4 separate regions of the Homo sapiens genome follow, and all the other regions are linked to region 4. The links come from fine-mapping of genetic effects on gene expression. A gene starts in region 4. Each other region holds a variant in brackets. All regions are shown on one strand. Distances are from middle to middle.

What was found.
Region 1: its variant is fine-mapped to the expression of MAPKAPK3 in whole blood (INTERVAL, PIP above 0.99).
Region 2: its variant is fine-mapped to the expression of MAPKAPK3 in whole blood (INTERVAL, PIP 0.97).
Region 3: its variant is fine-mapped to the expression of MAPKAPK3 in whole blood (TOPMed, PIP above 0.99).

Annotation. Positions count from the first base shown.
Region 1 is chr3:50,787,113-50,795,221 of GRCh38, forward strand. The region is part of intron 2 of DOCK3 (dedicator of cytokinesis 3); the gene reads left to right. It also overlaps the pseudogene ZNF652P1. Among named protein-coding and RNA genes, the nearest start is that of MIR4787, 120 kb to the left of the region's middle. RefSeq lists an enhancer at 3,547-4,293. The variant A/AT (reference allele first, on the strand shown) is at 5,010.
Region 2 is chr3:50,871,536-50,879,644 of GRCh38, forward strand. The region is part of intron 3 of DOCK3 (dedicator of cytokinesis 3); the gene reads left to right. It also overlaps the pseudogene ST13P14. Among named protein-coding and RNA genes, the nearest start is that of MIR4787, 200 kb to the left of the region's middle. RefSeq lists an enhancer at 2,130-2,359. The variant A/T (reference allele first, on the strand shown) is at 4,473.
Region 3 is chr3:51,054,640-51,062,748 of GRCh38, forward strand. All of the region lies in intron 5 of DOCK3 (dedicator of cytokinesis 3), which reads left to right. Among named protein-coding and RNA genes, the nearest start is that of MANF, 330 kb to the right of the region's middle. The variant G/A (reference allele first, on the strand shown) is at 3,132.
Region 4 is chr3:50,613,382-50,621,490 of GRCh38, forward strand. It overlaps MAPKAPK3 (MAPK activated protein kinase 3), which reads left to right and starts at 3,770. Exons shown (of 11, transcript NM_001243925.2): 1 at 3,770-3,860; 2 at 4,133-4,403. The coding sequence starts at 4,185. RefSeq lists enhancers at 2,533-2,622, 3,490-4,443, 4,444-5,396 and silencers at 3,714-3,763, 3,774-3,823, 4,074-4,223.

The DNA.
Region 1 (8,109 bases), 170 kb after region 4:
ACAAACTAAATGTTTTTTTCACAGTCTGTTTGCCGGTGAAGATATAGCTCACTTTCCAGGACAAACTTATTGCCACATTTATCACAAATCTGCATGTGCCTATGAGTAATATTCATTTGCTTCTCCAGACACCAGTGAGCATTAAATACCCTGGGGCACACGCCTGTAATCCCAGCACTTTGGGAGGCTGAGGCGGGCTGATCACCTGAGGTCAGGAGTTCGAGACCAGCCTGATCAACATGTAGAAACCCCGTCTCTATTAAAAATACAAAATTAGCTGGGCGTGGTGATGCATGCCTGTAATCCCAGCTACTCGGGAGGCTGAGGCAGGAGAATCGCTTGAACCCGGGAGATGGAGGTTGTGGTGAGCCGAGATCGCGCCATTGCACTCCAGCCTGGGCAACAAGAGTAAAACTGTCTCAAAAACAAAAAACAACCCTGGGTCACTTCTCACAGGTCACACTTAGCTTTCTGCACTGGTGCTTCAGGCTCCTTTGTTTCCCGCTTCTTACGCTTAGGTGGCTCTGCACTCTTCCTGCAACCTCTTGTAGTTCTGGGAGTAGGGGAAGTGGTAGCTGCAGCAACAGAGGCAGCTCTCCTCATTCTTCTTTCTGTAACGCTGACTTTCTCTGTTATCTTCTCCTTTTTCTTCTGCTTATCATTCTCTCCATAGTCATTGCTGTTATCTGTGGCCCCTTCCTCTCTCTCTTCCTCCTCATTGTTTAAGAACAGGAGTCTCTTTGGATTGAGAAGAGGTACCCTTTTCCCCTTTAGGTACATTTAATGTTTGATTATTAAGGTTTACCTCCACTATGATCTGCTCCCTTTTGTAAAAGACTTCTTCCTCTTCTTCCTCCTCCTCTTCTGTGTCATCAGAATTCTCCTGGTCTTCCTTAATAGCATGCACATCAGACTCTGCTCCTGTCTCCCTGAAATGTGGCTGTTCTTCTGTTTCATGGAGATGTAGTTTGCTCATCTTGGTGTCCACAAACACAGAATAAGGACTTCCTGGTTCCCTTTGTTACACTTTGGTGGACAGGTCAAGTTCCTTGTGGCACCATGATGAAAGCTGGATGGCACTTGCCCATGACGGCTATCATCTTGTGCCATTCCTGCTACAGGCACAGCACAGTTTTCAACCAGCTCCTGACGAGAAGTGGCTGTGTGCCTCATTGGTAAATGACTCAATTTATTAAGCAGTTCAGACTGTAAAGAAAATAGCTTTAAAACAAGGTAATTATTAAGACTAAAATATTTTTCCATCCCTAAGAATCACTCAAATGAAAAAAAGATATTCCTGGAAACTGAATTCTTCCAGTGTTGCAGCACCAAAGCATAAGTCAAAAAGGTTTGGTATTATGGCAAGAGCAGACCACTAGTGATTTTTCTTCTGAAGAGAACTACAAGGGACTTGGTGCATCTTATCTGGGCCAGCCACCTCCACCGCCTAGATCAATGCCTTGGCAGTCCTTCCCTGCAGTGGGGGGACTGTAGCCAGAGTCACAACCTCCAGCCAGGCTGGCCCCTCACTCCTGCCCAATGTCTGTCCTCAGGACTGCTCCTCAGACCTGGCCTCGGCTGCTGGCCACAGTGCTATGTGGCCACCACTCCCATGTCTCTGGACTTCCTTCTGAGTGCCTGAGGGCAAGGAGGGTGGCAGGGTGGGCAGAGCGCAGGGAGGGAGGCAGGGGAGGGGGGTGGGTGTGTGGATGTACGTGCAGGGAGGGAGGCGAGTGGCTGCGAGGGCGCGTGCCCGCCCCGTCCCCTTCCTTTGTTGGCCACCCCCCTTTATTATCTTTTCAAAGAACGAGGTTTTTGTTTCATTTATCTTTTGTATTGTTTCTTTTTTGTTTGTTTGTTTCCATTTCATTTAGTTCTGCTCTGATCTTTGTTATTTCTTTTCTTCTGCTGGGTTTGGGTTTAGTTTGTTTTTGTTTCTCTAGTTCCTTGAGGTGTGACCTTAGACTGTCTTCTTTTTTCTCTTTTAGACTTTTTGATATAGGTGTTTAATGCTAAGAACTTTTCTCTTAGCACCTCTTGCTGCATCCCAGAGGTTTTGATAGATTGTGTCACTATTATGCAGTTCAAATAACTTTTAATTTCCATCTTGATTTCATTGTTGACCCAATGATCATTCAGCAGCAGGTTAGTTTCCATGTATTTTCATGGTTTTGAGGGTTCCTTTTGGAGTTAATTTCCAATTTTATTCCACTGTGATCTGAGAGAGTACTTGATGTAATTTTGGTTTTCTTAAATTTATAGAGAGTTGTTTTGTGGCCTGTAATATGATCTATCTTGGAGAATGTTCCATGTACTGATGATTAGAATGTATATTCTGCAGTTGTTGGGTAGAATGTTCTGTAAATATCTGTTAAGTCCATTTGTTCTAGGGTATAGTTTAAGTCCATTGTTTACTTGTGGTCTTTCTGTCTTGATAACCTGTCCAGTGCTGTCAGTGGATTATTGAAGTCCGCCACCATTATTGTGTTGCCATCCATCACATTTCTTAGGTCTAGTAGTAACTGTTTTATAAATTTGGGAGCTCCAGTGTTAGGTGCATATATATCTAGGATTCTGATATTTTCCTGTTGGACTAGTTTTTAAATCTTTTTTGTTTGTTTGTTTGTTTTTAAGACAGTCTCTCTGTCTGTCATCCAGGTTGGAATGCAGTGGTGTGATCTTGGTGTCATCAGTGGTGTGACCTGTGCCTTCTGGGTTCAAGCGATTCTTGTGTCTCAGCCTCCTGAGTAGCTGGGACTGATAGTCATGCACTAGCATGCCTGGCTAATTTTTGTATTTTTAGTAGAGATGGGGTTTCGCCATATTGGCCAGACCGGTCTGGAACTCTTGGCCACAAGTATCTGCCCACCTCGGCTTCCCAAACTGTTGAGATTACAGGCATGAGCCACCATGCGTGGCCTAGTCCTTTCATCATTGTATAATATCCCTCTTTGTGTTTTTTTAACTGCTTTTGCTTTAAAGTTTGTTTCATCTGATGTAAGAATAGCTCCTCCTGCTTGCTTTGGGTGTTCATTTGCATGGAATATCTTTTTCCACCTTTTTACCTTAAGTTTATATGAGTCCTTATATGTTAGGTGAGTCTCTTGAAGACAACAGATGCATGGTTTGTGAATTCTTATCTGTTCTGCCATTCTGTATCTTTTAAGTGGAGCATTTAGGCCATACATTCAGTGTTAGTATTGAGACGTGAGGTACTATTCTGTTCATCATTGTGGTTGTTGCCTGAATACCTTGTTTGTTTTTTTCTCATTTGCTATTGTTTTACAGGTCCTGTGAGATTTATCCTTTAAGGAGGTTCTATTTTGGTGTATTTTGAGGTTTTTGTTTCAATATTTAGAGCTTTTTTTTTTTTTTTAGCAGTTATTTTAGTGCTGGCTTGGTAGTGGCAGATTCTTTCAGCATTTGTTTGTCTGAAAAAGACTATCTTTCCTTCATTTACGAAGCTTAGTTTTGCTAGATACAAAATTCATGACTGATAATTGTTTTGTTTAAGGAGACTAAAGATAGGACCTCAATCCCTTCAAGTTTATAGGGTTTCTGCTGAGAAATCTGCTTTTAATCTGATAAATTTTCCTTTATAGGTTACTTGATGCTTTTGCCTCACAGCTCTTAAGATTCTTTCCTTCGTCTTGACTTTAGATAACCTGATGACTGTGTGCCTGGGCGATGATCTTCCATTCTGACTGGTGTGAGATGGTATCTCATTGTGATTTTGATTTGCATTTTTCTAGTGATCAATGATACTTTTTTTCATATGCTTCTTGGCCACATGAATGTCTTTTTTTGAGAAGCATCTGTTCATGTCCTTTGCCCACTTTTTAATGTTTTTTTTTGTTGTTGTTATAAATTTGTTTAAGTTCCTTGTAGACGATATTAGACCTTTGTCAGATGGATAGATTGCAAAATTTTTCTCCCATTCTGTAGGTTGTTTACTCTGTTGATAGTTTCTTTTGTTATGCAGAAGCTCCTAAGTTTAATAAGATCCCATTTGTCAATGTTTGCCTTTGTTGTGATTGCTTTTGGTGCCTTTGTCATGAAATCTTTGCCTGTTCCTATGTTCCGAATGGTATTGGCCTAGGTGATCTATTACAGTTTTGGGGTTTACATTTAAGTGTTAAATCTATCTTTTTTTTTTTTTTTTTTTTTTTGAGACGGAGTCTTGCTCTGTCGCCCAGGATTGAGTGCAGTGGTGCCATCTCGGCTCACTGCAACCTCTGCCTCCCGGGTTCAAGTGATTCTCCTGCCTCAGCCTCCCAAGTAGCAGGGACTACAGGTGCACGCTACCATGTCTGGCTAATTTTTGTATTTTTAGTTTCACCATGTTGAAATGGGGTTTTACCATGTTGGCCAGGTTGGTCTGGAACTCCTGACCTCAGGTGATCCACCCGCCTCGGCCTCCCAAAGTGCTGGAATTATAGGTGTGAGCCACTGCACTTGGCCAAATGTTTAATCTGTCTTGAGTTGATTTTTGTGCATGGTGTAAGGAAGGGGTCCAGTTTCAATCTTCTGCATATGGTTAGCCAGTTATCCCAGCACCATTTATTGAATAGGGAGTCTTCTTCAATGCTTGTTTTTGTCAGGTTTGTTGAAGATCAGATGGTAGTAAGTGTGTGGCCTTGTTTCTGGGTGCTCTGTTGTTTTCCATTGGTCTCTGTGTTTGTTTTTTGTACTAGTACCATGTTGTTTTAGTTTCTGTGGCCCTGTGGTATAGTTTGAAGTTGGGTAGCATGATGCCTCCAGCTTTGTTCTTTTTGCTTAGGATTGCCTTGGCTATTCGGGATATTTTTTTATTCCTTGGCCATTCGGGATTTTTTTTTGTTCCATGTGAATTTTAAAATAGATTTTTCTAGTTCTGTGAAGAATGTCATTGTAGTTTGATAGGAATAGCATTGAATCTGTAAATTGCTTTGGGCAGTATGACCATTTTAATGATATGGATTCTTCTCTGTTAGCATGAAATATTTTTCCATTTGTTTGTGTCATCTCTG[A/AT]TTTTTTTTTTTTTTGAGCAATGTTTTGTAGTTCTTTTTGTAGACGTCTTTCACTTCTCTGGTTAGCTATATTTCTAGGTATTTCATTCTTTTTATGGCAGTGAATGAGATTCTGTTCCGATTTGGCTCTCAAGTTGGCTGTTGTTGGTGTATAGGAACTCTAGTGATTTTTGCACGTAGATTTTGTATTCTGAGACTTTGCTGAAGTTGTTTTTCAGCTTAAGGAGCTTTGGGGCTGACACTGTGGGGTTTTGTAGGTATAGGACATGTCATCTACAAATGGGTAGTTTGACTTCCTCTCTTCCTATTTGGATGCTGTTTATTTCTTTTTCTTGCCTAATTGTTCTGGAAAGGACTTCCAATACTATGTTGACTAGGAGTGGTGAGAGAGAGCACCTCTGTCTTGTGCCGGTTTTCAAGGGGAATGCTTCCAGCTTTATAGATTGGTTATGACGTTGGCTGTGGGTTTGTCATAGATATCTGTTACTATTTCACCAAGCTTATTGAGAGTTTTTAACATAAATGGTGTTGAATTTTACCAAAAGCCTTTTCTGCATCTGTTGAGATGATCATGTGGTTTTTGTTTCTAGCTCTGTTTATGTGATGAATCACGTTTATTGATTTGCATACGTTAGAGCAATCTTGCATTCCAGGGATAAATTGGTCATAGTGGATAAGCTTTTTGATGTGCTGCTGGATTTGGTTTGCGAATATTTCATTGAGGATTTTTGCACTGATGTTCATTGAGGATATTGGCCTGTTCTCTGCCAGGTTTTGATATCAGGATGATGCTGGCCTCATAGAATGAGTCAAGGAGAAGTCCCTCCTCCTTAGTTTTTTAGAATTGTTTCAGTAAGAATGGTACCAGCTCTTCTTTGTACATCTGTTAGAATTTGGCTGTGAATTTGTCTGGTCCTTGGCCTCTTTTGGTTGGTTGGAAGTTTATTAAAATTTAGTTTCAGAGCTCATTATTGGTCTGTTCACATATTCAGTTTCTTCCTGGTTCAGTCTTGGGAGGGGGTATGTGTCCAGGAATGTAAACGTTTCTTCCAGATTTTTTGGTTTATATGTATAGAGGTGTTCATAATAGTCTCTGATGGTTATTTGAATTTTTTTGGGGTCAGTGGTAATATCCCCTTTGCTGTTTCTAATTGTGTTTATTTGGATATTCACTTTTTTCTTCTTTATTAGTCTAGCTAGCCATCTATCTGTTTTATTAATTTTCTTTTTCTTTTTCTTTTTTTTTTTTTTTTTGAGGCAGAGTTTTGCTCTTGTTGCCCAGGCTGGAGTGTAGTGGCATGATTTCAGCTCACTGCAACCTCTACGTCCTGGCTTCAAGTGATTCTCCTGCCTCAGCCTCCCGTAGGTGGGATTACAGGCATGTGCCACCACACCCAGCTAATTTTTGTATTTTTTAGTAGAGACGGGATTTCGCCTTGTTGGTCAGGCTGGTCTCGAACTCCTGATCTCACGTGATCCACCTGCCTCAGCCTCCCAAAGTGCTGGGATTACAGGCGTGAGCCACCTTGCCTGGCCTATTTTATTAATTTTCTTTTCAAAAATTCAACCCCTGCCTTCAATGATCTTTTGAATGGTTTTTCATGTTTTCCTCTCCTTCTGTGCAACCTCTGATTTAGGTTATTTCTTGTCTTCTACTAGCTTTGGGCTTGATTTACTCTTAGCTCCCTAATTCTTTTAGTTGTGATGTTAGATTGAGACAGATCTTTCTTTTTGGTGTAGGCATTTAGTGCTATATATTTTCCTTTTAACACTGCCTTAGCTGTGTCCCAGAGATTTTGGGTATATTATATTTTTGTTCTCATTAGTTTCAAAGAACTTGTTGATTTTTGCCTTGATTTCATTATTTACCCAGAAGTCATTTGGGAGCAGTTTATTTAACTTATGTGTAATCGTAAGGTTTTGAGTGAATTTCCTGGTGTTGATTTTTAATTTGATTGTGCTGTGGTCTGACAGAGTGGTTGTTATGATTTCACTTCTTTTGCATTTGCTGAGGAGTGTTTTGTGTCCGAGTATGTGGTCAATTTTAGAATGTGTGTGATGTGGCAATGAGAAGAATGTATGTTTTGTTGCTTTTGGGTGGAGAGTTCTGTAAATTTCTATCAGATCCATTTGATCCAGTGCTGAGTTCAAGTACTGAATACCTTTGTTAATTTCTGCCTTGATGATCTATTGAATACTGTCAGTGGCATGTTGAAGTTTCCCACTATTGTTGTGTGGGAGTCTGTGTCTCTTTGTAGGTCTCTAAGAACTTGCTTTATGAATCTGGGTGCTCCTGTGTTAGGTGCATATATATTTAGGATAGTTAAGTCTTCTCGTTGAATTGAATCCTTTACCATTATGTAATGCCCTAATTTGTCTTTTTTGATCTTCGTTGGTTTAAAGTCTGTTTTGTCTGAAATTAGGATTGCAACCCCTGCTTTTTTCTATTTTGTCTTGCTTGGTAGATTTTTCTCCATCCCTTTATTTCAAGTCTGTGGGTGTTTGCATGTGACATGGATCTCTCGAAGACAGCATATTAATGGGTCTTGGTTCTTTGTCTAGCTTGCTACTCTGCACCTTTTAATTGGGGCATTTATCCTGTTTACATTCAGGGTTATTATTGATATGTGTAGATTTGATCTTGTCATCATGGTGTTAGCTAGTTAATATGGAGACATGTTTGTGTGGTTGCTTTATAGTGTTACTGGTCTGTGTGCTTAAGTTTGTGTTTGTGGTGGCTGGTAGTGGTCTTTCCTTTCCATATTTAGTGCTTCCTTCAGGAGCTCTTTTAAGGCGGGTCTGAGGGTAACGAATTTCCTCAGTGTTTGATTGTCTGAAAAGGATCTTATTTCTTGTTGGCTTGTGAAGCTCAGTTTGGCCAGCTATGAATTCTGGGTTTGAATCTCTCTTTTTTTTTTAAAGAATATGGAATATTGGCCCCCAATCTCTTCTGGCTTGGGTTTCTCCTGAGAGGTCCACTGTTAGTCTGATGGGTTTGCCTTTGTAGGTTACCTGATCTTTCATTCTAGCTACCTTTAACATTTTTTCTTTCATTTTGACTTTGGAGAATCTGATGATTATATATCTTGGAGATGATCTT
Region 2 (8,109 bases), 260 kb after region 4:
TCTTGAACTTGGATATTGATGTCTCTCGCTATGTTTGGAGGGTTCTCTGTTATTATTTCTTTTAGTGAAGTTCTGAACCCTATTTCTTTCTCTACCTCCTCTTTAATGCCAACTCTCAGATTTGCTCTTTTGAGGCTATTTTCTAAAACCTGTCATCTTGCTTGTTTTTTATTCTTTTAACTTTTGTCTCCTTTGTGTATTTTCAAATAGCCTGTCTTAAAGCTCACTAATTCTTTCTTGTGCTTGATTCATTCTGCACAATGAGTCATTCTTGATTCAACAGACTCTGGTGCATTATTCAGTACATCAGTTGCATTTTTCAACTCCAGAATTTTGGCTTGATTATTTTAAATTATTTCGATCTCTTTGCTAAATTTACCTGATAGAATTCTGGATTTCTTTTCTGTGTTATCTTGAATTTCTTTGAGTTTACTAAAAACAGCTATTTTGAGTTCTCTGTCTGAAAGATCATATATCTCTGTTTCTCTAGATTTGGTTCCTGGTGCCTTATTTAGTTTATTTGGTAAGGCCATATTTTCCTGGATATGGTCTTGATACTTGTAGAGTTTTGTCTGTGGTAGGCATTGAAGAGTTAGTTATTTAAGGTAGTCTTTGAGTTAGTTATTTGTTGAGCTTGTTTGTCTTTCTTAGGAAGGCCTTCCAGATATTCAGAGGGACTTGGATGTTGTGATTTAAGCTGTGTCTGCTTTAGGGGGGACCCCAAGTCTAGTTAATGCTGTGGTTTTTTCAGACTTGTAGAGGGACCACCTTGATGGTCTTGGACAATATCTGGAAGAATTCTCTGTATTACCAGACAGAGACTCTTGTTCTCTTCTCTTACTTTCTGCCAAACAAGCAGTCTCTCTCTCTGTTTCGAGTCACCTGAAGCTGGAGTTTGAGTGACACAAGCACCTCTGTGGTCACCACCACTAGGACTGTGCTGGGTCAGACCTGAAGCCAGGTCTCACTGGGTCTCACCCAAGGCCTGTTGTAACCACTCCCGGGCTACCATATATGTCTGTTCAAGGCCCTGGAGCTCTAGAATGAGCAGCTGGCAAAGCCAGTCAGGTCTGTGTCCTTCCCTTCAGGGTACTGAGTTTCCCCAGTTCCTGGGTGAGTTTAGAGGTGATATCTAGGAGCCAGGGACTAGAGTCAAAAACCTTAGAAGTCTACCTTATGTTCTCTTGTACCATAGCTGAGCTGGCACCAAAACCACAAGACACCATCCTTCCCCTTCTTTCCTCCCCTTTCCGAAGGCAGAGGAGCCTCATCCTGTGGCTCCTGCCATCACAGGCCCACGGGGCCTACTGCCAGACTACCACCAATATTTTAAGGCCAAGAGCTCTTCAGTCAGCTTGTGGTGACTCTTTCCTGGCCTGGGAATCACCTTCATGGCAGTGGGCTCCTCCCTGGTCCAGGACAGGTCCAGAAATGCAGTCCAAGAGCCAAGTCCTGGAATCAGGGACCCAAGAGCCTGCTTTGTTCTGTACCCACCCATGACCACGCTGGTTCCTAAGGTGCAAGAGAAAGCCTTGTTTCCTTTTCCCCTCCACTTGTCTCAGGCAGAAGGCTTGCCCGGTAGCCAACACAGCTGGAAATGTGCTGAGTTTCCCCCGAAGCCAGCAAGTCTCAGATTCTCACCCAAGACCCTTGATGTAATACCTGGGTATCACTCCTGGTTATTCAGGGCCCCAGGGGCTCTTTAGGTAGCAGATGATGAATTTTGCTAGGATTTTGCCCTTCCCTTCAAGGCAGCAGGTTCCCTTCTGGGCCAGGGTATGTCTAGAAATGTCATCTGGGAGCTAGGGCCTGGAAAGGGGACCTCATGACCTCACGACTCTGAGCAGTGCCTTATCCTGCTGTGACTGAGCTGGTATCCAAGATGCCAGACAAAGTCTTCTTCACTGTTTCCTCTCCTCTCCTCACACAGAAGGAAGGGGTCTGTTGGAGCTGCAAGCTGTACAGCCTGGGGTTAAGGGAGAGGTGATGCCAGCACTTTCTTAGCTACCCTAGCTGTTATCTCATTAGATTGTGTGTTCCCTAATCCACTGGCTCAGGGCCTGGTTCACCACTGGGACTCACCTAGGAGTTACAGTCCTTGTGGCCTAAACTGCCTTTTAAATTTATTTAGAGCCCCAGAGCCTTTAGCCTGAGGTGGTGAGACTTTCAGGAACTCAAGTTCCAATCACTGAGATCAGCTATTCTCCTCTGCCTAGGGCTGGTTTAAATGCTTTCTTCATGGGCACACATCAGCCAAATTTATTCTGGTTTTTATTTCTGCTCTAATGGAACAGCTTTGAGTTCAGTGCCTCCCAATTTCCGCGCTGTTTCTCCCCCAGCATACAGAATTGTTTTCTGCACTATGCAGTAGCTGCTATGGGTTGGGGGAAGGGTGATGTCTGTGATTCAAAACTGTTTTTTCTACTTCTTCATTTTCTCTTTCAGTAATGTAAAGTTAAAATCGGATGCTGTAAGTACTTGCCTGAGTTTTGGTTTTCATGAAGGTGTTTTTTTTTTTTTCTTTTCTTTTGTTTTTTTTTTTTTTGTTAAATTGTTGTACTCTTAGTGGGGTGATCAGTGGAGCTTTCTATTTCAGCATCTTGCTCCATCTTTTTCTCCTGTCATTGGTATTTTGATAGGAATTGCATTAAATGTATAGATTGCTTTGGGAAGTATAGATATTTTGCTGAATGTGATAGGTCACACCTGTAATCTCAGCACTTTGGGAGGCTGAGGTGGGAGGGTCACTAGAGCCCAGAAGTTCGAGACCAGCCTAAGCAAGATGGCAAGACCGTATGTCTGCAAAAAATTAAAAGAAAAAATTAGCTGGGCATGGTGGGTGTATTTGTAGTCCCAGCTACCTGGGAGGCTGAAGCAGGAGGATCCCTTGAGCCTAGGAGTTTAAGGCTGCAGTGAGCTAATTGTTCTACTGCACTCCAGCCTGGTGATGAAATGGGACCCTGTATCTTAGAAATAAATAAAGAAAAAAAAAAACAAAAAAAGTATAGGCATTTTAACAATATTAATTATTCCAATCCATGAATCTGGCATACCTTTCCATTTATTTTGTGTCCTTTTCAGTTTCTTTCATTAGTGTTTTGTAGTTTTTCTTGTAGAGATATTCCACTTATTTGGTTAAATTTATTCCTAAGTATTTTATTTTATTTTTGGTAGCTATTGTAAATCAGATTGCCTTTTTGATTTTTCACTGGTAGTATATGTAAATGCTACTGATTTTTGTATGTTGAGGTTGTATGCTGCAACTTTACTGAATACGTTTTTCAGTTCTAAGCTTTTTTGTGGTGGAGTCTTTAGGTTTCTCTAAATATAAGATCATTGTGGCCATAAAAAAGAATGAGTTCATGGGCTTTGCAGGCACACGGATGAAGCTGGAAGCCATCATTCTTAGCAAACTAACACAGAAACAGAAAACCAAACACCACACGTTCTCACTCATAAGTGGGAGTTGAACAATGAGAACACATGGACACAGGGAGGGGAACGTCACACACCGGAGTTGTGGGGGAGGGGTGGGAGAGCATTAAGACAAATACCTAAAGCATGCGGGGCTTCAAACCTAGATGACGAGTTGATAGGTGCAGCAAACCACCATGGCACATGTATGCCTATGTAACAAACCTGCACGTTCTGCACATGTATCCCAGAACTTAAAGTAAAATTAAAAAAAAAATTATGTTGTCTGCAAACAAGGATAATTTGGCTTTTAAAATTCCAGTTTGGGTACCCTTTCACTTGTTTCTCTTGCCTGTTTGTGCTGGCTAAGACTTGTAGTACTATGTTAAATAAAAGTGGTGGAAGTCTTATCTTTGTCTTGTTTGAGATCTCTTTGGAAAGACTTTCAATTTTTCCCTGTTCCTTCAGTATGATATTAGCTATGGGTTTGTTATATGTGGCCATTATTGTGTTCAGGTAAATTCCTTCCATACCCAGTTTGTTTAGAGGTTTTATCATGAAGGAATTTTGAACTTTATCAAATGCTTTTTCAGCACCCATTGAAATGATGATATGGGTTTTGTCTCTGATTTTGTTGATGTGATATATCATGTTTATTGATTTTCACATGTTCAACCATCCTTGATTCCCTGGGATGAATCCCACTTGATCACGATGAATGATGTTTTTGATATGTTGTTGAATTTGAGTATTTAATATTTTGTAGAAGATTTTTGCATTTATATTCATCAGGATTATCGGCCTATAGTTTTCTTGTTTGTTGTGTCCCTGTCTGATTTTGGTATCAGAGCAGTGCTTGCCTCATAGAATGAAGTTGCAATCATCTCTTCCTCTTTAATTTTTGAATTAAAAAAAAAAAAACAACTGTTGTGTTTTGAGAGTCTTCGCCTGTTCGCTGTTGAGATAATATGAAACATTTTCATGATATATTGAACAAGAACAGAGCTGAATAATCCAGCTCTACTGGAGCATTAAAAAAAATTCTTTACCATCGTGTA[A/T]GGTTTAAATGCAACTGACAAGAGGGTGCATGCTATGTAAAACATAATAAGATTACTGCTGCTATACCAAGTATTTCCAGTCTGTTTCTGAGAAACAGAACCTGTTCCTCAGGTTCTGTTGAAATACTGGAATATCAATATTTTTATCAGAATTATTCATGTTAAAAAACCATTTAAAAAGAGAAATCAAAATTCCTCAGTAGTCATGTATTCAACTCAAGCTTTATCTACTTAAATTAGTTTTATTTGCCTCCCATTTGTAAACCTGTGTTTCACTAAAACCAGAGCAATAAATCTTCCATACTTAAGTATCTTTCTTGCCTAATAAAGGAAAAATACAAAATGATTATTAAAGAAAAATATATGAACTAACAAATCCTTTTGTTTTAAATATTTTAAGGTTTAAAATATTTAGTATTTTATTCAGTATAAATATTTAGTGAATAAATATTTAGTATTTTATTATAGTTTGTAATTTCTAGCAGGAACACATGATTTGAATGAATATCCTAATGGCAAACCACAGTAAAATATTCAGCTGCATTTGGGGAAGAGGGGTAGAGATGATCTTGAAAGCCTTCTAGTTGTCTTGATCAGAGGTACACCGGTTTGTATTATTGTAACATTTATTAGGTGATCTAGTTTGCTTTTCCTTCACCTAGGGCCTTTTACTTGTCCAAAGGACATTTTCCTTCACTTTAAAAATTTGGCTGACAATTTACTGATGAGATTCATAATTTTTTTGGTTACTCTGGTGTTTTGACATATTTGCTGTGTTCTGGGCCACATCCTAGAAGATCACTGTAACTTCTGTTTCCTGCATGGCTGCAAGAACCTCTAGGTCAAGCTTGTCCAACTCATGGGCCATATGCAGCCCAGAACAGTTTTGAATGTGGCCCAACACAAATTTGTAAATTTTCTTAAAACATTATGAGATTTTTTGCAATTTTTTTAAAAAGCCCATCAGCTCTCGTTAGTGTTACTGTATTTTATGTGTGGCCCAAGACAATTCTTCTTTGAGTGTGGTCCAGGGAAGCCAAAAGATTGAACACTCCTGCTCTAAATCACTAAGAATTTCATTGCATCCAGGCATTTCTGCCATTCTAGGCATTGCTCCAGGAAAATTACCAGGCATTCCCCCTGGGAAAGCCACCTGGAAAAGAGCCATACTGAGCTCCTGAATGTCATCTGGCTTCTTTCTCCCTCTGAGCTCTCTCATGATCTTACGGAGCCTTCTTAACCCTTTTTATTCTTTCTTTGATTTCTTACTCTTGATATTTCTATTCAACCTTTTTCTAATGTTGTGCAATTTTCTTGGCCCTCAGTTGAACTTCTTTCAGCATTGTACTAGTATCTTCATCATAATCCAGTTATGGTCAGGGTCAAGATTATAGCTGCTTCTTTCCAATGGCCCAGAAATCTGTGTGCTTTCCCTCACCACTTATAAGGCTGAGCCAAATCAGAATTTATTTCATTTGTTCTGTCAGTCTCGAATGGCAGTGTTTGGCTTCTGTAATGTGATGAAGATACTGACTGTGTTGACATACAGAATGGTCAAGCGAGGATTCAGCTTGATGGCATCTCTGAACAAGACAGTGGCTTTCTGTAGTGCACCATTATCTAGGGCTTCAATGGCAGCCACTTTTTCTTTTCTTTTCTTTTCTTTTCTTTTCTTTTTCTTTTTTATGTTGGAGTCTCGCTGTGTCACCAGGCTGGAGTGCAGTGGCGTGATCTCAGCTCACTGCAACCTCCGCCTCCTGGGTTCAAGCAATTCTCCTGCCTCAGCCTCCTGAGTAGCTGGGATTACAGGCCTGCACCACCACGCCTGGCTAACTGGGAGTAACCTAACTGGGAGACATCTCCCAATAGAGGCTGACTGACACCAAATACAGCCAGGTGCCCCTCTGAGACGAAGCTTCCAGAGGAAGGATCAGGCAGCAACATTTGCCGTTCTGCAATATTTGCTGTTCTGCAGCCTCCGCTGGTGATACCCAGGCAAACAGTGTCTGGAGTGGACCTCCAGCAAACTCCAACAGACCTGCAGCTGAAGGTCCTGACTGTTAGAAGGAAAACTAACAAACAGAAAGGACATCCACACCAAAACCCCATCTGTACGTCACCATCATCAAAGATCAAAGGTAGATAAAACCACCAAGATGGGGAGAAACCAGAGCAGAAAAGCTGAAAATTCTAAAAATCAGAGCGTCTCTTCTCCTCCAGAGGAATGCAGCTCCTCGCCAGCAATGAAACAAAGCTGGAAGGAGAATGACTTTGATGAGTTGAGAGAAGAAGGCTTCGGACGATTGGTAATAACAAACTTCTCCGAGCTAAAGGAGGATATTTGAACCCATTGCAAAGAAGCTAAAAACCTTGAAAAAAGATTAGATGGGTGGCTAACTAGAATAAACAGTGTAGAGAAGACCTTAAATGACCTGATGGAGCTGAAAACCATGGCACGAGAACGATGTGACGCATGCACAAGCTTCAGTAGCTGATTTGATCAAGTGGAAGAAAGGGTATCAGTGATTGAAGATCAAATTAATGAAATGAAGCAAGAAGAGAAGTTTAGAGAAAAAAGTAAAGAGAAACGAACAAAGCCTCCAAGAAATATGGCACTATGTGAAAAGACCAAATCTGTGTCTGATTGGTGTACCTGAAAGTGACAGGGAGAATGAAACCAAGTTGGAAAACACTCTGCAGGATATTAACCAGGAGAATATCCCCAAGCTAGCAAGGCAGGCCAACATTCAAATTCAGGAAATACAGAGAACACCACAAATATACTCCTCGAGAAGAGCAACTCCATGACACATAATTGTCAGATTCATCAAAGTTGAAATGAAGGAAAAAATATTAAGGGCAGCCAGAGAGAAAAGTCGGGTTACCCACAAAGGGAAGCCCATCAGACTAACAGCAGATCTCTCGGCAGAAACTCTACAAGCCAGAAGAGAGTGGGGGCCAATATTCAACATTCTTAAAGAAAAGAATTTTCAACCCAGAATTTCATATCCAGCCAAACTAAGCTTCATAAGTGAAGGAGAAATAAAATCCTTTACAGACAAGCAAATGCTGAGAGATTTTGTCACCACCAGGCCTGCCTTACAAGAGCTCCTGAAGGAAGCACTAAACATGGAAAGGAACAAATGGTACTAGCCACTGCAAAAACATGCCAAATTGTAAAGACCATCGATGCTAGGAAGAAACTGCATCAATTAACGAGCAAAATAACCAGCTAACATCATAATGACAGGATCAAATTCACACCTAACAATATTCACTTTAAATGTAAATGGGCTAACTGCTCCAATTGAAAGACACAGACTGGCAAATTGCATAAAGAGTCAAGACCCATCAGTGTGCTATATTCAGGAGACCCATCTCAGGTGCAGAGACACACATAGGCTCAAAATAAAGGGATGGAGGAAGATTTACCAAGCAAATGGAAAACAAAAAAAAGGAAGGGGTTGCAATCCTAGTCTCTGATAAAACAGACTTTAAACCAACAAAGATCAAAAGAGACAAAGAAGGGCATTACATAATGGTAAAGGGATCAATTCAACAAGAAGAGCTGACCAGCCTAAATATATATTCACCCAGTACAGGAGCACCCAGATTCATAAAGCAAGTCCTTAGAGAC
Region 3 (8,109 bases), 440 kb after region 4:
TTGTCTCCCATTTATCTATTGGATTGCATTACCTTTTCATTCTGCTTTCAGGCAGGATTCCTCAATTTTGTGTTCCATTATTTTACTGTTTTTTAATATTAAATTACGACTAGCCTGCTTTTAACTTCCAAAAGCCCTTTTGGGTTTTGGGGGTTATGCCCCTTTATTATGCCCTATTCTTCTTTGGATGGATGTGCTATAATTTCTGTGGTCTTGTAAAATATTAATTATTTTTTCTTTGAAATTTTCTTTTATTCTTGTCATTGTGTCTGTTTCCTCCAATATCTATTTTTCTGATTGCTTTGGTCTCTTTCCTTCATGTTGGAAGCTTTCCTTATTATATGGTGTTCTTTGTCCATTCATATTTAAGAATGAGGCATTAAAATGTTGACAGAAAGCTCTGTGAATTGGGCTAGTATTTATCAATTAGTGAACATTACTTTAGAGGGATTAGAAGAGGGCCTGGCTTTTGATGGAAAAAGTAGAGCAGCTGTCAATATTTCTGGATCTTTTCCCCTGGGCTGAGTTTTCCTAAAGAGGAATCTTCTCCATTCTTCATATGCAGGTATCAGCCTGGTTGTTAACATCTGGGGAGCTCGATGTGGAAAGCACACTGGGAAAGGGTTGGGGGTAAAGGGGGATAATACTTCTAGGCTTCAGAGATTTCTGGTACCTCCAGTCTCAGAGCCTTTCTGCAGAGGCTTGCATCTTACTGATTTCTTCCCTGTTTCCCACCCTCCTCACTTGTCTTCCTCCACCTTACTCTTAGGGCTTTTTTAGTTTTCTATTCTTTGACAAGTCATCTACTTTCCAGCTTTCACCTTTAATGTTTGGTGGAGTGGATAGTTGTGCATGGGAAGGATTGAGGCTGGCTTTTTATTAGTCTCCCTAAGAAGAGATGCCTATGGACACATCGAGGACTGACTTTAAGTAGAGATTTGATCTGTCCTGTGTAGTAGGAGTGACTGTGAGCCTGAGAACGCCTCAGCTGTTTACTGCCCACTGTTAGGTAAGTCTGCCTTGTTCAGAATTGTGAATGGATGCCCTTCACTTGGCATCTATCCATCCGTGAATGGATGACTTCAGCAACTACAGCCTCCATTGTCATATCTCTAATATTTTTTCTACCTTTCTACCTTTGGTGTTGTTCCTTTCTTATGAAGATCTGCTCTGTGGAATAGAAAGATTTTTACAAATCTTAGCTCTCCTGCAAATATATGTGTTGTAAGAGAGGATTAGAGCTATAATGCTATTTGTTATTTGGAATATCAACTCTATAATGGAGGATGTATTTGGGCTGGGGATAGACTGAGGATGATATCATGGCCCTTGAGATGTGGAGGAGTTAGATGTATGTGCCAAGGAAATACATATTGTATGGATACTTCCTCATATTAATGAAGAGAAAAAGAATTTTCATATCGCTTCTTTGCATTTTCATTTGTTGTAAATATGTGCTTGAAAATCAGTGTGAATTAGCTTTGGTTTAGATACTGTTTTGTTTCACAAAAATTTCTATCTTTTGTACTCAGTTGCTGACTATGTTGTTCGGCAAACTAAAATGAAAGTTTAGATTCCTGGGTTTAAAGGTATTTTATTATTATTATTTTTATTTTATTTATTTTTTGAGACGGAGTCTCGCTCTGTTCCCCAGGCTGGAATGCAGTGGCACAATCTCGGCTCACTGCAAGCTCTGCCTTCCAGGTTCACACCATTCTCCTGCCTCTGCCTCCCGAGTAACTGGGACTACAGGTGCCCGCCACCATGGCTGGCTAATTTTTTGTATTTTTAGTAGAGACGAGGTTTCACAGTGTTAGCCAGGATGGTCTCGATGTCCTGACCTCGTGATCCACCCACCTCAGCTTCCCAAAGTGCTGGGATTACAGGCGTGAGCCACTGTGCCTGGCCATTTAAAGGTATTTTTGACATAAAGGTCATTAGGGTTCCAAGTACTGTAGTCTAGAAATCTTTTCATTATATTGGGATGAGTTTTGGAATATAAGAAAACATCTAGAATAGGATTAGAGGTTACTTCATGAGAAGAGACTTGAAGATTAGTAGTAATGAAAAAAGAATGCTGTTTTGGGAGTTTTGAATAAACTCAAGTTCTTAATGGTTAATTTGTTAAAAAGAAAGTGAGAAAAAACCCATCTACTTATGTATAAAGGAATATTCAAAAAGAAAATGTAAAATAGGGGAGATCTGGTAATCTTCCCACAACAACATTGGAAGGAAACAATGTTTATCTTCCATTAAATTGATTTTGATGTAAAGTTTTTAGTACTAGTGGCAGGACATTATTCTCTTTGAGGATAGCAAAATTTCTGATGTCATTTTTATTTAATTAGATTTTTATGATGCTGTGTTTATATTAATTGGTCCGTAAGCATATGTAGTTTTAAAATAAAGGTAATATACTTTCTGGCAAATGCCCTACAACTTTGCTCATTTACTGACTTAGAGGCATCACTGTGGCACAACGTTTCTTTCCATACTGGGTTAAAAATAATTTAGCAAAAATTATCTTTAAAACAGGAGCACTAAAACATATTCTTTTTTTCTGCAGAGCTCCAGGGATTGTTTCACAACAGTGAGGCAAATTGTACTTGGCATGCGTTTGTAAAGTAGTTTAATCATTCTAAATTTATGGTTTCTGCTGACTCTTCAGTGTACTTTCCAAATAATCTGTGACTGATCTTGACAAATATTAGTCTGTAGGGTTTTTGCAGAGGCTGGATGTGTTGCTAAGATGAGCTATACAGATTTCTTCTGCCCAATCTCCTCCTCATTGAATTTTCCTTTTATTTTAGCAGTGACAGGAAATAGGGATGATTGTGCCAGAAAACAAAACCTGTAGTGCCAACCTAATTATACTGTTACTTTAATCCACTGAGGAGCAGGTCTCTAAGTAGAAAAGGATTGTTTTTCCTGAGTGAGGTATTCAGCTGTTTTGTGGCATCAGATCATTCTAGGTGAATGTATGCTCTGGTGCTAGTCACCCAGATTGCTCACCTTGAGTGGTATATACTGTCTTATGCTAACAAGCCCAAGAACACAGTGCGGTGTCGGAGCAATGTTGGTGGAGCCTCTACTGCTAGGGTCTCTGGTCAGAGAGGTCATTAGGTTGGCCC[G/A]GAAAAAGAAATTAACACCACATTGGTTATAATAACAGTGCTGCTTTACTTAATCCATTTCCTTCTTTGTGCATCTTTACACAGTTGGTGTAGGATAAGTAATTTCATTTTCATGTATTTGGAAACAACTGATTTTCTATTGAAAAAAATTGTGTAATTGTTTCAGTTACCTACATAACAAACCATCCAAAGCTTAGTGGCTTAAAATAACTATATTTTTCATTCTTTTCTGGATATAGTGAACTCAGTTGGGCATTTTTCATTTAGGGTTTCTCATTTTGTTGCAGTTGAGTATTGGTAGGGGCTGTAGTCCTTTGAAGGCTCAGCTGGGCTAGGTATCCAAGATTGCTCACTCACACCATTGAAACTCCTTACTTATGGCCTCAGCTCCCAAGAACATGCATTCCAAAATGCAGGAAGCAGAAGCAGCCAGACTAGTTAAAGGCTGAGAACTGGCCTAGCTCACTGCTGCCATATCTGTTGGTCAGAGCATATTCAGGGCCTGCCCAGATTCAAAACTGTGGGAAAATAGATTCCATGTCATGCTGGAAGGGTATCAAAGTCACATTATTGCAAAAGACCACTTGTCATGGGAGATATTGTAGTTATCTTTGGAAAATGCAATCTGTGAAACTCTTGATTAAAAAAAACCATGTACAATGCCTTAAAAGACTACATTTGTATATTCTTGCATAGATAGTGTGTGTTTGTGCGTGTGGCATAGATATTGTATATGTGTATTGTGCATTTATGTATGTATTACATGTGTATGTGTGTATATATGTACATGTATATGCATTAATATACACATACATAATACGTATATGCCATCTTAGTTTGTTGGGCTGCTATAACAAAATTTTCTAAGTTGAGCAGTTTATAAACAACAGAAGTTTATTTATCACATTTCTGGAGGCTGAGAAGTCCAGGATCAAGATTGGCAGAATCAGTGTCTGGTGGGGGTCCACTTCCTCATAGTTTGCACCTTCTTGCTATGGCTTCACATGGGAGAAGGGATGAAAGAACCTCCCCTTTGGGCCTATTTTTTTTAAGGTAATAAATACAAATATTTAATTAAATATTAATAGGAAATTTGGCTGTGGGTGTATACATATATGTATAAAATAATTACATATATATGTATGTATGTATAAAATCATTTTAACTTTTATTTTAGATCTGGGGGTACATGTGTAGGTTTGTTACATGGGTATGTTGCATGATTCTGACATTTGAGATGTGAATAATCCCCTCACACGGGTAGTGAACATAGTACCTAACAGGTAAGTTTCAACCCTTGTACTTCACCCTGTCTTCACCCTCTAATAGTCCCCAGTGTCTATTGTTGTTGTTTTTATATTCATGAGTACCCAGTGTTTAGCTCCCACTTGTAAATGAGAACATACGGTGTTTGTTTTTCTGTTTCTGCATTAATTTTCTTAGGATAATGGCCTTGGGCCTATTTTATAAGGGCACTAATCCCATTCACGAGGGCTTGGCCCTTATAACCTAATTATCTCCCAAACAGTTTCACCTCCTAATACCATTGCCTTGAGGGTTAGGATTTCAATGTATGAATTTATTGAGGGGGAAATGCAGACATTTGGACCATAGCACACATGTACATTAATACACATGATGCCTCAGTATCAGTATACTTCATTAGACTTTGCTAGAAAAAAAACCACACACACACACACACACACACACACACACACACACACCCCACATCCCACATTACTTTTAATTAGTTTTCACAGATCTCAGAACTACCTAGCAATGGAACTAACTTTCTGGTCAATTCAAGTTACCACTCCGTAAGAGACTGTTTTATATCGTTTGCTCTATTCTCAAATCTCAAATACCCCTTCCCACTCTATTCACTCCCAGCTGATGATATTGCTTTTTATTTCTCTGAGAATAAAGCAGTCAGAGGAAAATTTTAGTTCTCTTATTACCAGATCTACCAGCTACCTGTATCATTACCCATATTCTGTACCCTTCCTCTCTGTGAAGAATAGGTAGGTAACACAGAGTATCAAGCCTCCTACCTAAATCAAACCCTCCCCTTTTTTCCCCAGGATCCATCTGTTCATGTCTACTCAAGGATTTAACAGCTGCATCATCAAATTTTCTCCCTCTAATAGATTATTCTCTTCAAAATTTAGTTTGAAATTTTGTCAAATCTTTTAAAAACCCTTCCTTAACCACACAGTCACATTCTGCTACCCCATTTCTCTGCTTTTAGTTACTGCAGATTCTTCAGAAGAGTTGTCTGTGCTCTTTCTCCACTTCTTCCTCTCACAATCTCACTCAAACTCACTCCAACAATTCATTGAACCTGCACATTGTGCACATGTACCCTAAAACTTAAAGTATAATAATAATAAAATAAAATAAGACATCTATTGCATATAAAAAAAAAGAAACTGTTCCTGTAGAGGTCAGTGACAGCCACCACAATGCCAAATCCCCTGGCCAATTCTCAGTTCATATTTATTTAACCCCCCAGTGCCTTTGACAAAGTCCTCCTTAAAATCCAGTTTTCTAAAATTTTCTCCCATTCTGTAGGTTGCCTGTTCACTCTGATGGTAGTTTCTTTTGCTGTGCAAAAGCTCTTTAGTTTAATTAGATCCCATTTGTCAATTTTGGCTTCTGTTGCCATTGCTTTTGGTGTTTTATACGTGAAGTCCTTGCCCATGCCTGTGTCCTGAATGGTACTGCCTAGGCTTTCTTCTAGGGTTTTTATGGTTTTAGGTCAACACTTAAGTCTTTAATCCATCTTGAATTAATTTTTGTATAAGGTGTAAGGAAGGGATCCAGTTTCAGCTTTCTACATATTGCTAGCCAGTTTTCCCAGCACCATTTATTAAATAGGGAATCCTTTCCCCATTTCTTGTTTTTGTCAGGTTTGTCAAAGATCAGATGGTTGTAGATAAGCAGCATTATTTCTGAGGGCTCTGTTCTGTTCCATTGGTCTATATCTCTGTTTTGGTACCAGTACCATGCTGTTTTGGTTACTGTAGCCTTGTAGTATAGTTTGAAGTCAAGGGCTAATATCCAGAATCTACAGTGAACTCAAACAAATTTACAAGAAAAAAACAAACAACCCTATCAACAAGTGGGCAAAGGATATGAACAGACACTTCTCAAAAGAAGACATTTATGCAGCCAACAGACACATGAAAAAATGCTCTTCATCACTGGCCATCAGAGAAATGCAAATCAAAACCACAATGAGATACCATCTCACACCAGTTAGAATGGCGATCATTAAAAAGTCAGGAAACAACAGGTGCTGGAGAGGATGTGGAGAAATAGGAACACTTTTACACTGTTGGTGGCACTGTAAACTAGTTCAACCATTGTGGAAGTCAGTGTGGCGATTCCTCAGGGATCTAGAACTTGAAATACCATTTGACCCAGCCATCCCATTACTGTATATATACCCAAAGGATTATAAATCATGCTGCTATAAAGACACATACACACGTGTGTTTATTGCGGCACTATTCACAATAGCAAAGACTTGGAACCAACCCAAATGTCCAACAGTGATAGACTGGATTAAGAAAATGTGGCACATATACACCATTGAATACAATGCAGCCATAAAAAATGATGAGTTCATGTCCTTTGTAGGGACATGGATGAAGCTGGAAACCACCATTCTCAGCAAACTATTGCAAGGACAAAAAACCAAACACCGCATGTTCTCACTCATAGATGGGAATTGAACAATGAGAACACATCGACATAGGAAGGGGAACATCACACACCGGGGCCTGATGTGGGGTGGGGAGAGGGGGGAGGGATAGCATTTGGAGATATACCTAACATTAAATGACAAGTTACTGGGTACAGCACACCAACATGGCAGATGTATACATATGTAATTAACCTGCACGTTGTGAACATGTACCCTAAAACTTAAAGTATAATAAAAAAAAAAGCCATGAAAAGAAAAATCCAGTTTTCATTTGGCTTTCATGACACATACTCTCCTGCTTTTCCTCTCACCTCACTGCTTACTCCTTCTAGTTTCCTCTGCTAAATACTTCTCACTTTCCTAACCTCTGAATGTTGGAAATCAGTGTCAGACTTAGCATGTCCAAAATTAAACTTAGTTTCCTTCTTCCAGGCATGCTTTCCAGGCCACAAAACAAGAGTGATACTTTACTCTGTTCATAACCCACATCTAGTCCGTCAGCAAATTCTGGCACCTCTACCTACAAAACATGTCAAAACTTCAAGCCCTTCTTAACATCAGCATTCTTACCTTCATCCAAGCAGCTGTTATGCTGTGAACTGTTGCACTAAATAGCCTCCTGACTGGAATCCCTGCCTTCCTCTTTGCCTTTTTATGGTTTATCTTCAATAGAGCACTCAGAGTGATGCTTTCGAGACTTAAGTCATATCACATCACTCTTCTGCTCCAAATCTCCAGTAACTTCCCATCTTGCTTAGAATAAAAGCCAAAGCCTTAAGGTGGTTTACAAAATCTGTGTTTAACCTGGTGCCTGCTGCCTGTCTGCATCATCAATCTTCCCTTTCTCAAGACACACTGACCCTGTTTTTCCTGAACATGCCATGTTTACTTCCACCTCAAGGCCTTTGCACTTGTTTCTTATGCCTGAATAATGTCCCCAGTTTTCTTAAATGTTGCCACCTTACTTCATTCAGGTGTATTCTCAAAGTTCAGCTCCCAAAAAGTCTTTCCCTGACCACTCCACCTAAAGCAGTACCTTCCCCAGTGCCCCAGCCAGCCTACCCTTGGCCACTCTGATTTTTCTTTTTATAATTTATCACCATCATTAATGATTTGCCTATTGCCTGCTCTCTAGATCAAAAGTGCCATGAGAGCAGGGACTTTTGATCACAACAAAGTGTTAGTACTCAAGAGGTGCTGCACAAGCATTTGTTAATTGGATGAATGAATGAATGCTTGTGGATGTATACATGCAATGGACTATCATAT
Region 4 (8,109 bases):
GGAAGCCGGGCTTCATGAGTGCAACTCTGCCAGCCCCCTCCTGAGTTGGCCAGAAGCCACTTTCTTGGAATGGGGGTAGGGGGGATGGATACCTTATAACCCACTTTGAGGGCTGGGATACCTGGATAGCCTGATATGCGGCCCCTGTGTGGACCACTGACTTGCCAGTAGGAACTGTCCACTGTCTCATTACTATGAAGACAAAAGGACTTTGCCGCTGCCAGGCAACAGAGTTACAATTTTGAACTTGGGTCTCTTATGGGGCCAAATCCCAAGCTCTCTACCAAAACTATACTTCTTCCCCCTCACCATGACTATTCAACTGAACACTTACTATGTGTCAAGCACTCTCAGCAATTTGCAGCCTCATGTCATTGTCACAACTACCACATATTATCTCCTCTTTACAGGTGAGAAAACTGAGGCATGGAGAGGTTACAATATAACTTAGATCTCCCAGCTGGCAAGTAATGGTTTAAGCCAGGAGCCTACACACTTCCTCCTACTTCCTCTATGGGTGCTGGTGATCTGCCGACTCCTAGACATCCAGCTTTAAGGTCCTCAGTGAAGCTTCTCTGCCCCCAGGCCTGTCCATGTCAGAGCACCATGGGTGTCCCTTTGAAAGTATCTCCTACAGGTCAGTGATTATGCAGTCTATGTGTAAACCAAAGGGTTCCAAGGGTTTTGGCCTTCCAACTATTTTTGTGTGTGTGTGAATATGACAGCACTGTGCACCTCACCTGCATGCTGGGAACAGTGATGTGCCCCTGTTCTGCCCCAAGTACTAAGTTGGGTCCCTCTGGCCAACTTAGTACTTAATTCTCCTGCCCTGGCTGCTCCCTAGAAACCCTGGCTCTGATTGCTGGGCCCACACTGCCACCTAGCGGTGCCCCCTCTCATGCCCTCACTAGCCAAATTTCCATAGATTCTTCTCTTCTAGGATAATCCCTCTCCTGCACCCCAGGGATTGAACTTACTGCAAGATTCCCCTGCCACTCCCTACCCAGAACAATCACAAGATGAATCACAAGAATACACAGCAGTGCCTTCCCAAAAGTCTCGCTCATTTGGCCTCCATCCTCTCACCATGTACAGCCTCCCCTCTCCAGTAAGGACAGAGTGTGTGTGTGTGTGTGTGTGTGTGTGTGTGTGTGTGTGTGTAGGATTTAGCCCCCCTCACTTTAAGCTATTCCAAAGTCTCTGTCCCCTTGGACACACAGCTACATGAAGGGCTGTGTGGCAGAGTCTGCCATCATGAACCCACTCCTGACCAGACCTAGCCATCCTGCATGCCAAATCCTCCCATCATTGTGGAGGGGATGCTGCAGGTGGTTGCTGGAACATGAGCACTAAGGGAAACCACATATTCTGACTTTCCTGGGCTAAGTGAGTAGTTTCAAGGCATCTCTCCGATGGACCCATGTGGGGAATGCGTGTGCCTGTGGAAGCATGGACACTGGTTATAGGGACTGGGAGGGGAGAAGCAGCACCTTTGCCTTACTTTTCATACTTCTGTATAATTTGAATTAATTACAATGAGGAAGTTTTACTTATGCAACTTAAAATTTTAATAAAAGAGACCAGCTTAAAAAATACAATTATAAAATTTGTAGAGCAATTATAATCTAATTCCATTTTAAAGAAAGAAGACATCTTCACAGAACATTCAGTGGGATGCCTTTGGCTGGGGCAAGGAGCCAGCCTCCACCCTCAGCTGCCTAGCCTTCTGCTCACCAGAATGACATCTTGCTCAGCCTCAGGTTCACCAGGCTCAAACTAGTTGCCTTCAGAGAGCAGAGAGCCTTCTTTGGCTCCCCCCAGCAGTAGAAGATTCCAGATCATAGGGCTTTCAAAGAGGCTCTGAGATCTTGAATCAGATTCTCAGGTTGGGCTCAGGGACATCAATCCTGGGTCCAGCTGGGCATAAATGCATGTGTGTGTGCACATGTGCATGTGTATCTGTGTGCATGTGTGTTATATGCATGTGTGTTTATACGTGTTATATGCATGTGTGTGCACATGTGTAAAGGTGTGACTGCATGTGTACATGTGTGAGAGTATGTTTGCACATGTGGCTGTGTGAGGAGCCAGAAAGGACTAGGAGAGGAGGCCATGGTTTGAGGATAAGAGCCCAGCCCTGAGGTTGTGCTTTGGAGTTGGAATGGGGGCTCTGTCATGACAGCTGCTGACCTCAGACAGGTCACTTAACCTCTCTGGGCTTTTCTGTCCTGTGTGTCTGTAGTGTGGGGCAGAAGGGATAGTGTGACCTCCTCTAGGCTCTGTAAGGTCAGGGGGTTGCAGGGAGAGCACATTCCCAGCATCTGGTCTGCAAGAAGTGTTCACTATGGCCAGCTGAGGCTATTGTCTGGAGCCTCCTGCTTCACTGAACACTGCTAGCTTGAAGGTTGCCTGAAAGAAATAGGGGCAGAGCCCCAACCCCATCTCCACTCAACATCTGCACACAGTGGGTACCCACTAATAAGTTGTAGCACCCTTTCAGTCACTCATTCACTCATTCATTGACAGAAGATCATCTTTCCAAGAGCTACTTCTCTGATGAGCCTGCACATGCAGCCCAGGGGTCCGTGAGTGTGCGTGTGTTAACCAGAGGGGCTGAGGGGGAGGCGCTCACTGGGCCTAAATTCCGGAGCCAAGAGTAGGATGGCTGGAAGACGCCTCTGAGTGGAACCGAGGTCCTGGTACCTGCAGTCCTGTAGATGGCCTGTAGATGACAGCAGAGGCCCATGCAGAGCCCCTGCGCTGAGCCGCACCTTCCCAGTTCCAAGTGAGCCAGCTCGCTCAGGTCCCTCAGCTTCCGGATTGGGGGAGTGATGTGATGTGCGCAAGTAGTTCAGATCTGTCCCAGAAGACAGCCACAGCCACCCTCCCTATGGCTCTAGACAAGTTGTTTTCTCCCCAGGGGTCCCAGTTTCCTCATCTGTGAAATGAGAGTTGCTTAACAGCCGGTGTTGGGAAAACTGGCTCAAAATACGTAAGGTAGTCTAAGATGGGCTTAACAGAGACTTATATGTGCAAGGCAAAACTAGAAAGCTAATGGAGAATATCTGTCACTCGGATGGGAGACAGAGACTTTTTAAACACGACGCCAAAAGCCCAAACCATAAGGTGAAATGTTGGCGGATCTGATCAAATGGCAACTCGGGATTTCTGGTCCCCAGGATGCTGTATATACCAAAGGGAAGCAGCGAGTCAAGGGCATAAGCGGGAGCTGCAAAAAGGGGGCAGTCGCCAGTGCTGGAGACTCCCAGAGCCACCAGAGACTAAAGAGTGGCGAATTCAACAACGACAAGATGCCACCTCCCTCGGCATGTTTAAAAAGTTGAGTACGCTGAGGGTTGGCCAACACTAGGCAAGTCGGAAGCCTAGCAAGCCATACTGGAGGGCCACCTGGCAGCGTGCAGAGCAAACACCCGACTCAAGGAGAGCTTTCAAGAGAAATAAGACGTCCTGCGCTGTCACGTTCTAGGTTGCGAGTAAAACCCGGGACCCGCACAGTAGCGGACTGCCAGTACAGGGGCCTCCCTGGGTGTCCCTGGAAACCGAGGAAGTAACCGCCCCCTCGGGAAGCCACGCCTCCTATTTTGTTCCGGCTCGGGGGCGGGACCCAGCCGGGGCCCGCCTGGCCCTTTAAGGCTGACCTAGCGGGGCCCCAAGTTGGGATGACGCGCAGGGAGCGGGGGGTGGAGTGGGGGAGTGGGGGAGGGGGGGGTGGGGAGGGGGGGGAGGTCACGTGGGCGCCGGCAGCGCGACTCTCGGCCCTGGGATTTCTGCGGCCGCCAGCTCCCGCGACCGCCTCTCCTGCCCCTCGCCGGTACCTCAGCAAGGTGCGTTGCCGCCAGGTACGCCCTCGCTGGGCCCCCTCTGCGGCCTCCTCCGGGGACCTCGCGGCCATTAGGCGCCCGGCCCCTTCCCTTCTTGACACGTGCCCGGGCGGTGCTCGCTTGTACCCCGCCGCGCGACCACCGCCCCTTGCTGCACGTCTGTACTCTCAGGCCGTTCGTCCCGCACTCCCAGCTTGCCCCGGGCTCGCAGCCCAGCCCAGTTCAGAGGCTCCAAGGCTGGGGTGTGTTGGAAAAGTCTGGGCGGGACTCACTCTTCCCCTTTCCCCCAGGTGCCACTAGAAGCGCCAGGCTGGGGCCGCCTCTGAGCGCCCCGCGGGGGCCATGGATGGTGAAACAGCAGAGGAGCAGGGGGGCCCTGTGCCCCCGCCAGTTGCACCCGGCGGACCCGGCTTGGGCGGTGCTCCGGGGGGGCGGCGGGAGCCCAAGAAGTACGCAGTGACCGACGACTACCAGTTGTCCAAGCAGGTGCTGGGCCTGGGTGTGAACGGCAAAGTGCTGGAGTGCTTCCATCGGCGCACTGGACAGAAGTGTGCCCTGAAGGTCAGTGAGCCCTCACTGAGGCCTGGGGTATCCTGGAGGGTCCACAGCGGAAGCCTGTGAGTGAAGCTATGTCTAGCGCCCCTGCTAAGCTTCCTATGCTCAGCAACATGTTTCATCGTCATACTGTCCTGTAAGGTCAGGCTTGTGGTCCTCCCTACTTCACAGATGGGGAAACTGAGGCGTAGCCTAGCTAAGCTTTGAGTGTCCCAGTGAGCAAGGGGTGGAGTCACTATGGCTAGAGATGCTGTATCCGGAAGCAGGGAAGGGGTGACTCCTGACTCTGGGATTCTGGCTGGACCCATGTGTTCAGGCCCAAAGGGGATCTCTTGTTCAGCTTGGCTGCCCCTTCCATGTGAAGCTCCTCTGACTGGAATGGATCTGTTTCCCTTTGCTGGAAGCTGAGACCCCACCAAGGCTTGGGTGGGACTGCTTCTTCCCTGTGGCCCCTGCCTGTCTGGGCTGGAGTGGTGTGAGCCTCCCAGGGCTGGCCAGAGGACAAGGCTGATGCCCACTGCACCTGTGGAGCCTCAGGAGGCTGCTGATAGACTCCTGACGAGTCGCTGGTCCCGTGTTGAAAGGGACAGGCCCTGGGCCAACCCACCCCTGGTTCCTGGGCAGAGGGCGGGCCAGCCATCTAGCCACCTCAGACTATAGGCTCCCTGGAGACCTGGCATGCTGATATAGGTGGCATGGTGGGGGTCAGGGGGATGCTGGGGGCGGGTACCTGGTTCCAGCTTAAGGCATACAGTTCTGGGCCTAGGGCCACACCCCATACCCAGAATCCCTTGAATCTGTCATCTCTGGGGTCTTTACTCATTTGTAGCTTGTGCCAATGGATGGGTAGAGCATGGCAGGGATAGTGGCTCCTGGAGGCTAGAAGTACAGCAAAGGCCCTTCTCATTTTACAAAAGATTTTTTTTTTTTGAGGCAGAGTCTCACTCTGTCGCCAGGCTGGAGTGCAGTGGCACAATCTCAGCTCACTGCAACCTCCACCTCCCAGGTTCAAGCGATTTTACTGCCTCAGCCTCCTGAGTAGCTGGGACTACAGGCGTGCGCCACCACGCCCAGCTAATTTTTTGTATTTTTAGTAGAGACAGGGTTTCACCATGTTGGCCAGGATGGTCTCGATCTCTTGACCTCGTGATCTGCCTGCCTTGGCCTCCCAAAGTGCTGGGATTACAGGCGTGAGCCACCGTGCCCGGCCTTTACACAAGTTTTAATTATGAGTCCAAGTGCAGAGTCCTCTAGATATGGCTAATAGCTATCCTGTGTTTGCCAGTTTCATGACCTTGGATGATATCCTAGACTCTGGAAGCCAGGTTTCTGCATCTATTCATGGGGAAAGATAAGGAGTTGTTGTGAACATGAAATGAGATTATACATTTAAAGCACTTGGTACAGGACCTGATACAGGTCTGGAGAGGTTACAGGACTTATTTAAGGCACAAGGTCTTAAAGCATCTGAGCAGGGAGCTGGACCCAGCTCTCTGTGTCTTTCCCAGGACCACTAGGGCCAACAGAGGAGGTTGTCTCCCCGGAGTACCTTGGAGGGGAACATGCGGGTGGGTCTAGGAGAGGATCAGGGTTGGGCTGGTGGGGCTGGGCCCCAGGTATAGCTTCTTTGCCCACTAACCCAGCAGTCGAATGGGGTCGGGGAGCTTTTCAGAGTATCAGGAATGGGATTCTCTGAGTCTTTTAGGGAAAAAGTGGCTCTTCTGAGGGCAGACGGGGGTAAGAGGATGAGGAATGAGAGTTTTCATCCCCCTCTGGGCACTATTTAACCTTCCACCTGTGCTAGGATTGAGGGCAGGCTGGGTGGGTGAGGGATTGAGGCCAGAGACCCACTTCTTAATACCAAGGCTTTGACCCTGTGGGCCAAGACTGAGCTCTGACCAGCCCCTGTGGTGTCCAGATGCTGTGGGTGAGTCAGGGATGGGGTGGGAGACCAGAATTTGTAGGCCCACACAGTGCCAGCTTTAAGTAAGACTGGACTTAACCCCTTCCCCATAGATGCTATGTCTGATGAGTGACTTGGGGTAACTTCTGACTGCAAGAACTTCCACAGCACCTCATCAGTGCTCTCCTTGTTCTGGACTGGGAATTGGGTCAGGCCTGGAGTGGATTTCCCTCTGTACCCCTTTATGGGTGAGCATGGCTAAGGCTACTAGCTTGGGACCTTCAGGATCTGGCCCTAAATTGGCCCTCAAAGGGGACATGGATTAGATGTGGCTCCCACTCCAGGACCTTCCTGTTCTTAGTATCACTAGTGACCAAGCCTAGAAGTCCTTACCCAGCTAAGCAGGCATTTACTATCTCCCAATATTGGGCTAAGCACAACCTCTGGTACAGTTATTTTACCTGTCTTGTGAGTGGTAGCTGTGGCCACGAGGAGGAAGGTGACATCTCCCCACTTATAGCTTCTGCCCATTGCCCAGGAAGACCAGGACCTGGGGACCTCAGTACATGGGCAGGCCTGGGCCCAGGGAGCTTAGCCAGCTCATGATGGATCACAGTCCTCTCCTTGCATCTGCCTAGCCCTCTCCCCGCAGTTGCCCCAGCTCAGCCTAGGCAACAGTCGTGGGCTCTGTGTCTTTCTGCCTCCCTGGTGATGTACTCCAGGTTAACCAGGGTGGCCTGTCCTCATCTTATAACTTGACCTTGTTCAGGCCATCTCTGCCCATTTGTCTCATGCTCATCCTCTTGGCTCTGTTGCCCAAGATGGAAGATAGTGCTTAACAGGAAGCCTGAAACTCAGCAAACACTCATAAAACAGGAAGAGCTGTGGCCACTGTCCTTGTAACTGTTGCTATTCTGTGGAGGCCCTAGAGGAGCAGGTCCCTCCCTCCCAGGGAGCTGGGCCTCTTCCGCTTTCCCTTAGCCCCTGACCACCTGCTTGGTTCATCTTGGCCTCAGTCATACTCAGTGGCTCCCTCCCAAGGCTACCTTCTGCTGCCAGTGCAGCCATTCTACTCCATTGTACCCCAAGCCCTCATTGCTGTCCTCTTGGCAGGAACTGGAGGACTGCCTTTCTTGGAGAGGGTGTATGGGCCAGGCGGTCCTCCAGTGTCTGCTTCTCCTGCTGACCTCTTGCTTGTGCCCTCTCCCAGGCTTAACTAGTTAATTAGTACCTTCAGCTTTCCCTCTAACTGGGCACAGCCCTGCAGATTTGTCACACATCAGTTACCCCACCACATCCAAGATCCAGTCCTTCAAACTTTATCACATACATGAAAATTGGGACCCAAAGTGAGTCACACGGTTTGAAGTGGGGGGTGTAGCAGAGGCCCGAATTTTCTCCCCTCCTGACATCCTGCCCAGCCCTCTTGTGGTTTTTGGCCTCTTGGCAGGCAGAAGTGACCATGGCACTTAGTATCTCTAAATAAAAGCAATAGGCTGGGTGCGGTGGCTTGTGCCTGTAATCCCAGCACTTTGGGAGGCTGAGGCAGGAGGATCATTTGAGTCCAGGAGTTTAAGACCAGTCTTGGCAACATGGTAAGACCCTTATCTCTACACAAAATTTAAAAATTAGGGCTGGGTATGATGACTTATGCCTGTAATTCCAGCACTTTGGCTGAGGCGGGAGGATCACTTGAAGTCTGGAGCTCGAGACCAACCTGGCCAACCTGGCAAAACCTTGTCTCTACTAAAAATAAAAATACAAAAATTTGCTGGACACAGTGGCGGGCGCCTGTAATCCCAGCTACTG